2 linked regions of the Homo sapiens genome follow. The protein of the gene in region 1 interacts with the protein of each later gene in a biochemical or structural test. Each region holds a gene or a part of one and is shown on either strand. Other genes may lie near its edges.

Evidence for each region. The genes of interacting proteins can lie anywhere in the genome.
Region 2: the proteins of BRAP (region 1) and KSR1 form a complex in vitro, tested with the Homo sapiens proteins (one study listed by BioGRID).

What each region holds. Positions count from the first base shown.
Region 1 is NC_000012.12:111,665,335-111,669,085, forward strand, and holds part of BRAP (BRCA1-associated protein), read right to left. Parts: exon of another isoform or gene 3,624-3,751; intron 3,306-3,623; exon of another isoform or gene 2,901-3,305; intron 2,594-2,900; exon of another isoform or gene 2,386-2,593; intron 2,082-2,385; exon of another isoform or gene 1,597-2,081; intron 454-1,596; coding exon 305-453; intron 1-304. UniProt on the Homo sapiens protein: Negatively regulates MAP kinase activation by limiting the formation of Raf/MEK complexes probably by inactivation of the KSR1 scaffold protein.
Region 2 is NC_000017.11:27,620,383-27,624,133, reverse strand, and holds part of KSR1 (kinase suppressor of Ras 1), read right to left. Parts: intron 2,942-3,751; coding exon 2,861-2,941; intron 2,206-2,860; coding exon of another isoform or gene 2,199-2,205; exon of another isoform or gene 821-2,198; coding exon 742-820; 3' UTR 1-741.

The DNA of each region.
Region 1 (3,751 bases):
TAGATTTCACTGCAGCACGAGAGCCTCAAACTAAGCTTTGCTTTTTTTTTTCACTCTCTGGCTCTTGGAAGGAAAGAACAACTCATGCTGCTTTGGGGAATTCCACAAGGGTTCAGAATCAGCATACTAAAAAAGGACTTGGTCTCAGAATGCCGATTCCCTGAACTTAGGAAAGGGAAGGAGAAAAAGGACCTCTTGAATAAAGTCAAATACTTGGAATGGTTCATTTCTGCTGGTGGCTCTTTTTAATTCTGGAAGGGTTGCAATGGGCTTGTACACAGAGGGGTTCGGCCCCTGCACTCACGTGGTATCGTCCCAGCGCTGTAGACACTGGCTGTGGAAGCTGTGGTTACATAACGTTGTGAGGATGCCATTCACAGACTCGTCCATGCGCTCCAGACACACCGTGCACTTGGGGAGTTCAGTCAGGTCCATCACTGGGAGGCTGGCGCCCTACAGGAAACACCTCACATAAGCCTCACTCTTCATCTACCAGCAATACTTTATTTTTCCTTCTTTTTTCTGAGACAGGGTCTCGCTCTCTGTCACCCACGCTGGAGCCCAGTGGCGCAATCATGGCTCATTACAGCCTTGACCTCCCAGGCTCAAGAGATCTGCCCACCTCAGGCTCCCCAGTAGCTGGGACTACAGGCATGAGCCACTGTGCCAGGCCTTTCTTCTTTTAATAATAGTTTTCTAGTTGCTTTTTTGACTCCTGGCAGGATATCCTCAATATCATTACTCTAAGCAAGTAATTTAAATTGGTAATATTTTCATTCATTTATTCATTCATTCAAGAAACAGGGATGGAGTACCTCCTGTGTTCCAGCACTGTGCCAGGTACTGGGAGTACAGCGGTGAACAAAACAAAGATCTCTGCCCTTACAGAACTGACATTCCAGGAAGGGAGACTGCTGTCAAAACCTTAACATATAAATCTCAAATGTGACCAGACTCCTAGCTCAAGCTCTAAGTGTCTACGACTATAATAGAACACAAAGGAACAAAAGAATAGCTGGACCTGAAGGATTTTTCCATAGAGTAAGTTATAACTTAACACTTTCTACTCAGTGATGACAGCACCAACAACACTGATTTTTCTTTATTCCCTCATTGTACAGATAGAGATTGAGCCCCTGCTATGTGCAGCAGACAGACACTGTTCTAGGTGTGGAACAGTGGTGAGCAAAAACAGATACGTTAAGTCCAAAAAACAGTCAGCTCCTGCCCCCACAGAGTTTAGAATCTAGTGGAGGGAGAGACAAAAATCAAATTAAAAAGCAAACAGTACAGGAAGCCACAACAGGGTGTGAATTAGGGGGCATGACAGTCTAGATGGTCAGGAAAGGCATTCCTAAGACAGTGCTTGACTTGACGCTTCCAGCCAGAAGACGAGAAAGAATTACTTAGGCAAAGGTCAGGGAGCACACACTTATGGACAGAGAAAAAGCACATTAACCTACAGTCCCTGAAGAGTAGATACTTACAGGAAATCTCTCAAGAAGCCACGTTCATTTAAGAAAGGAATCTCTAAAACTGAGGCCTCGTGCAGCAGCCAGCACAAAGGATGCCCAATTTTATCACGTCAATTTTTTTTTGAGTTTGACAAATTTATCGGTATTTTAGTAAAGACATTCATCTCAGTTGTTTCTCTCTCCCAGCTTGACCTTAGGTTAATATTTCATTTGGGTCAAGAAAAGAATATCTAGGAGAGGTATGTTAACAAACAGGAAAATGGACAAAAATTGATAGTTTGCCTACATTAAAGTAAGTTAAATTCATGTATTTTGATATAATTAAATCATGTAAGAACTAAGAGTTCTATATACATTTCCATTGTTTTACTTGGGGCTCATTCTAAACTTAAATGCTAGTGAACAAGTGTTAGGAATATACACAGGATGCTTCTCTGGAGTTATTACCAACTAAAAGAGCTCAGCGAGCAGTTACCACCAATAAAACAGTCTGAAGCTGCCTCCAAATATAATATTGTAGGAGTTTTCAAGGAAATGTTTATACTGTATGCTTCTTTTGTCTGTGACTATGCTTTTAAAGATGTGTTTAACTGTCACATTAAAAAAGATGCCGGGCGGGGTGGCTCACGCCTGTTAAGTCCAGCACTTTGGGAGGCCGAGGCGGGTGGATCACAAGGTCAGGAGTTCAAGATCAGCCTGGCCAAGAGGGTGAAACCCTGTCTCCACTAAAAACACAAAAAATTAGCCGGGTGTGGTCGTGGGTGCCTGTAATCCCAGTTACTTGGGAGGATGAGGCAGAGAATTTCTTGAACCCAGGAGGTAGAGGATGCAGTGAGCTGAGATCACACCACTGCACTCCAGCCTGGGAGACAGAGTGAAACTCCGTCTCAAAAAAAAAAAAAAAAAAAAAAAGCTCATACACAATACAAAAATACAAAAACTAACACCCTACAATATACAAATCTCACAAAGTATATGTGGTGAGATTCCAAAAAAATGTTTGAAGATGCATTTTCTTTCCTTCTACTCCAGTATCTAAAATGTGCTTTTTGAGAGGCCATTGGTCAACATGTATACATTTAAAATCAACCATGTAATTTTACTAGTAAGAAAGCTGGGGCTGGCACGGTGGCTCACACCCGTAATCCCAGCACTTTGGGAGGCCAAGGCAGGCGGATCACGAGGTCAAGAGTTTGAGACCAGCCTGGCCAACGTGGTGAAACCCCATCTCTACTAAGAACACAAAAATTAGCTGGGCATGGTGGTGCATACCTGTAATCCCAGCTACTCAGGAGGCTGAGGCAGGAGAATCACTTGAACCTGGGAGGCATAGGCTGCAGTGAGCCGAGACTGCTCCAATGCACTCCAGCCTGGGCGACAGAGCAAGACTCCGTCTGGGTCGGGGCGGGGTGTGGGGGAAGCCAGTAGTTAAGTTCAATTTAAATTGGATTCACAAGTTAGTAATTTAAATCCTCAGACAAAGTTACAGAAAGTGTATCTTCTTGTTTTCCATCTTCATACAATGTTAATTTTTTTTTTTTTGGTGTTTATACTTTTTAAAAAAATAAAAATAGTCAAATGCTTAATATGTACATTTAATTTTTTGGTGGTGGTTTGTATTTTAAAAGAAACAGCTTCCTTATGATTTGGCTCAAGTTCTGGTGGAAATGCTTACAGCAACTAGCTAATAAACAAAAAACAAGAGAAGCACATTCGAAATACTGATTTACTTTGGTAGCAAATGGTTTTTCTTTGAAGACAAATGAAGATACACAAGACCCATTAAGGTGAAGTGGGCTATTTCAAATATTCAACAGTTTACATTAAAAAGAATTCTTTTTTTTTTTTTTTAATTTGTTTTTTTTGAGACAGAGTCTCGCTCTGTCGCCCAGGCTGGAGTGCAGTGGCACAATCTCGGCTCACTGCAAGCTCCGCCTCCCGGGTTCACGCCATTCTCCTGCCTCAGCCTCCCGAGTAGCTGGGACTACAGGTGCCCACCACAACGCCTAGCTAATTTTTTGTATTTTTAGTAGAGATGGGTTTTCACCATGTTAACCAAGATGGTCTCGATCTCCTGACCTCGTGATCCACCCTCAACCTCCCAAAGTGCTGGGATTACAGGCGTGAGCCACTGCGTCTGGCCAAAAAAAATTCTTTTAAGAGCTAAGCATCTGTATCCACTGATAGCAATGCAATACCTACTTTATGATGACTTGAAACAAAACAAATGCCTATAAGGAAAAAAGCTGCATTTTAATTTTATCTAAATTTACGTT
Region 2 (3,751 bases), on another chromosome or scaffold:
CCATGGATGTTTCCTCACCTTGCAGCAGAAACCCTGGCTGGGAACCACCGGGTGAGTCCAGACCTTTTTTGGATTCTGTTTCTACTTTTCCAGCAGGAGCAGCCTGGATTACAGGGGTGAGAAGGTGAACCCAAGCTCTCCAGGAATTCCAGACTCCATAAACTAGCTCAGTTCCTAGCCAGGGTTTCCTCTGCAAGACGAGGAAGGGGCAGTATCCCTTTGAAAGGACAAGGGGAGAGCCCTAGATAGATTTCCCTGATGGAGTCTTGGGCCAAAAAGCAGAGGCCAGATCAGACCTTCTGGGCTCCCCGCCCTACCCCAAGAACAGCTGCAATTACCATGTTTGTCTTCCTTCTGGCCCAGCATGGGTCCCTCACCGCCTACAAGGTCCTCAGAGGGGATGGCCATTTCCGCCATCCTGGCCGTCAGTGCCAGTGCATCTGCACAGACTGTTTTTATTATTACCTATTGTAAAACATCAGGTTCACTCAGGAGAAATATACGTGTAAACATTTGCTGTCTGTCATGACAGGTTTGGTTGTTGGTGGTGTCATTTTAAGAAATAGCAGGTGCAGCTCCATCTCCCGAGTGGGGTTTATGGCCAACAGTCTGAATCTAGGACGTGTGCTCCTGGTTTGCAGCGCTGGGCAGGCAGTGTTTTTTTGTCGTGGTGGTTGTTGGGATGTTTCAGAAACACATTTTAAAAAGAAAGAGATCAGCAGCGAAAAACCATATGGCTGGCTACATCTTTGGATTACTGGACTCCAGGACGCCCAAGCCAAACCTTTCAAACCGGGGTACAACTTTGCTGCTGTTAATGCTGCAAAGAGGAACAAAAACAAGAATTATAGCCCCATTGATCTTCATCAGAATTAGGGTAACACTAGCTAGGAAATGAGTTCAGCAGAGGACCTGGCCTCCAACAAGAAATGAAAATGACTGATTGGCCAACAGCCCTGGCAGAGCTGCCCCTGGTCATACTGCGTCCAAGGCCTCAGCTACACTCCAAGTAGTCCTACTTGGAGCAGCAACGGTGGCTCATTCATCTCCAAGTCCCAAGCTCCCAGCATGCTCAGTACTGCTGTGGGTTCCTAGGAATTGTTTTCTCATTTGCAGCCCAGGAAAGCTCTTGCTCCAAGTAGAACTGAGAGAGAAGAGAAACATGACTCCCAGGATACCAGGAGTGACAGGGCATGTTCCTTTTAGCAATAAACTCTAATACTGGGGTGCATCAGGGCCACCTGGGAAGCAGGTTGAAATGCAAATTCCTAGGGCCCCATTCCAGAGATCTGGGTTCAGCAGGTCTTGCTGGGGAGGGAGAACAGAAACCTGCATTTGGTAAACAGTGCATTGACTGCCACAGGGGACTCAGCAGCCATGCTCTTGACAAATGCTGACCTGGGGTCTGGTCTATGGTACACTGGGCAGCTGTAAAGGAAGTAACTTTGCCAGGGTGGCAGGGTGGGGACGGGGCAGAGACTTTGTTTTCATCAGAAAAATTGTCTGGAGCCAGGTACCTCTTTGCTTTAAGACAATTTTTCTGAGGGTGCCACTGAAGACACAACCCTTCCAAGCTGGTATCTTTCATGGCCACAGAACTTTCTGTGTCTTCTGATCTAACTCTACAGAGGGGACTGAGACAGGAGCCAGCGCAGAGGGTTCCTGTGACCAGGGTGCCAGCCTCAGGGCAGCTCTGAAATCATTCCACTCCTTGTTGGACAAAATCCCCACAGGTTAAAAGCCAAGCCAACACCCTCCCAACCTCCGCCCGCCCCGCACTAGGCACACACCCAGTGGGAGGCTGGTGTGCTCAGGAGGGTGGAAGGCATCTCACTAAGGTGTTAGCAGTGAGACAGAGCCACCCAAACAAAAACAAGACCAGCCCTCAGAAGAACACGGGAGCAATCAGTCATGTCCAGGAAGGTAGTTAGAAGCTGCCCAGACTGCCTTGGAGGGAGCTCAGTTAGTGGGATCCTCTGAGAGCAGTTACTTGGGCATATGCAGGCCACGTGGAGAGGGCAGAGGGCCAGTTTTTAAAACAAAGCAAAAGAAGTAGCCTCGAGAGAGACGACTGGAGCAGCAGAGGTGGCATCCCCTGGGTTAGTGCCCGCATCTCATTTTGCATTTTAGCAGAAGTCACGGTGCTGAGTTGTTGATTAGGAGGAAGAAAGCCCCTGGTGCATGCAAGGCAGCCAGGCCTACAACCTACAGAGGGAAAGAGAAGAAAGCAAAGAACAGCATCAGAATCATAGCCCCAATGCAGAGCCTGTCGGGAGCTAGAGGTCTGGCCAGAGCAGCTGGGCAGGGGACTCCCTTTCTCTTCCAGAGAGAAAGGGCCATCCTGGACTCCATCCCCCAGGCTTGGCTGCACTGCATGCTCAGAAGGGATCCTGGGCACAAAGAACCCTCTCTAAGCTCCCGCAGGGCACAGTTGCAGCACGTTTATAAAGAGGATGGAACATGCCCACAGCTCCTTAGCCCTTGACGAGTAAAATCTACTTCCAAGAGTATTTCTGCTTAACTGGATTCTCTTCTCTTGAGCTCTGGCCAGGGGGACTGGGATCCTGGGGGCTCAAATCAATGACCAGAATTTTCTCCGACCCAGGGACAAGCCACCCATTCACTCATGGTGTGGACAAAGGCCCCGCCACATGCTGTGGCTCTTCTCTCACCCAGCGAAAAATGCAAGCCTGTGTGACCCTTGCTGGAAGCCATTTCAGCTGCAGAAACCTCACTTTGGTTTGCGAGAATAAATGACACAAAGATGGGAGAAGCTGGGAAGCGGCGACAGAAAGGAAGCAGGGCTTGTGTCAGGAAAACCAGAGACAGGCAGCCAGCGAAGGAAGTAACAGGAACACACTATTCCTCCAGAATCGGACAGGAGCTCTTAAAGTCAGGGTGGCCGTAGCGTCCTTTTCCATAGTAGCGGCTCCTCCAGCGACTGGGAGTGCCCAGCGACCATTCCACCAGGCGTGGGAAGAGCGCAGTCCGGCCCCGGCATGTGATGGAGTCAGGCACGTGTGGACAGGTGGAGGAATCAGGTGATGGGAAAGTGGGAGATGACAGAACAGCACATCCGCCACCCCCCGAAAATAAAAAAGTGACAAGATCAATGGAAAGAAAAGAGAAAGTGAGAATTAGGGGGCAAGCGTGTAGAAAGTAAACACTGTGAACAGGAAGCTTTGACACAGACTCATTCAGGAAAGGAAAGCCCGCATGCTTTCCTCGAAGGGGCTGGGCAGGGAACAGCCCCATCTGTGACTCAGTTTCCTGCCTGTGAAATGAGAAGGTGGGACTATATGGTTTTTGGGGAATCTGGAATGATGTTCTGAATGCCAGTGTCCACCTAGTGGAGCCTTTTCTTTCGTCACGGAGAAAACCAGGGCCCAGCTTGTTAAGCAAGTTGCCCACGGTCTGATTAGAGCTTGGCCTCGCTGCCTCACATCACCCTCCTTGAACTGCTAAGAGCCCCATGCTCCTGGTCTCTGCTGGGATAGTTCTGGCTCAAAACCCAGCCCTGACGACCTTCTTCCAGAGACTCTTCCTCCTGTCCCCCAGGTGGATGCAGAGGCCCCCATCTGGGCTTTATCACAGCACTTGGCATGGTATCACCCTTTGCTCACATTCATTCATGCACATTAAATATTTAGTGCCCAACTATAATGTTCCTGGGACTGTACTAGGAGCCAGGAATACAAAGGTGACAAGAAAGAGTCCTGATGTGTGCAGGTTTCATTACAGTGTGTCTGTT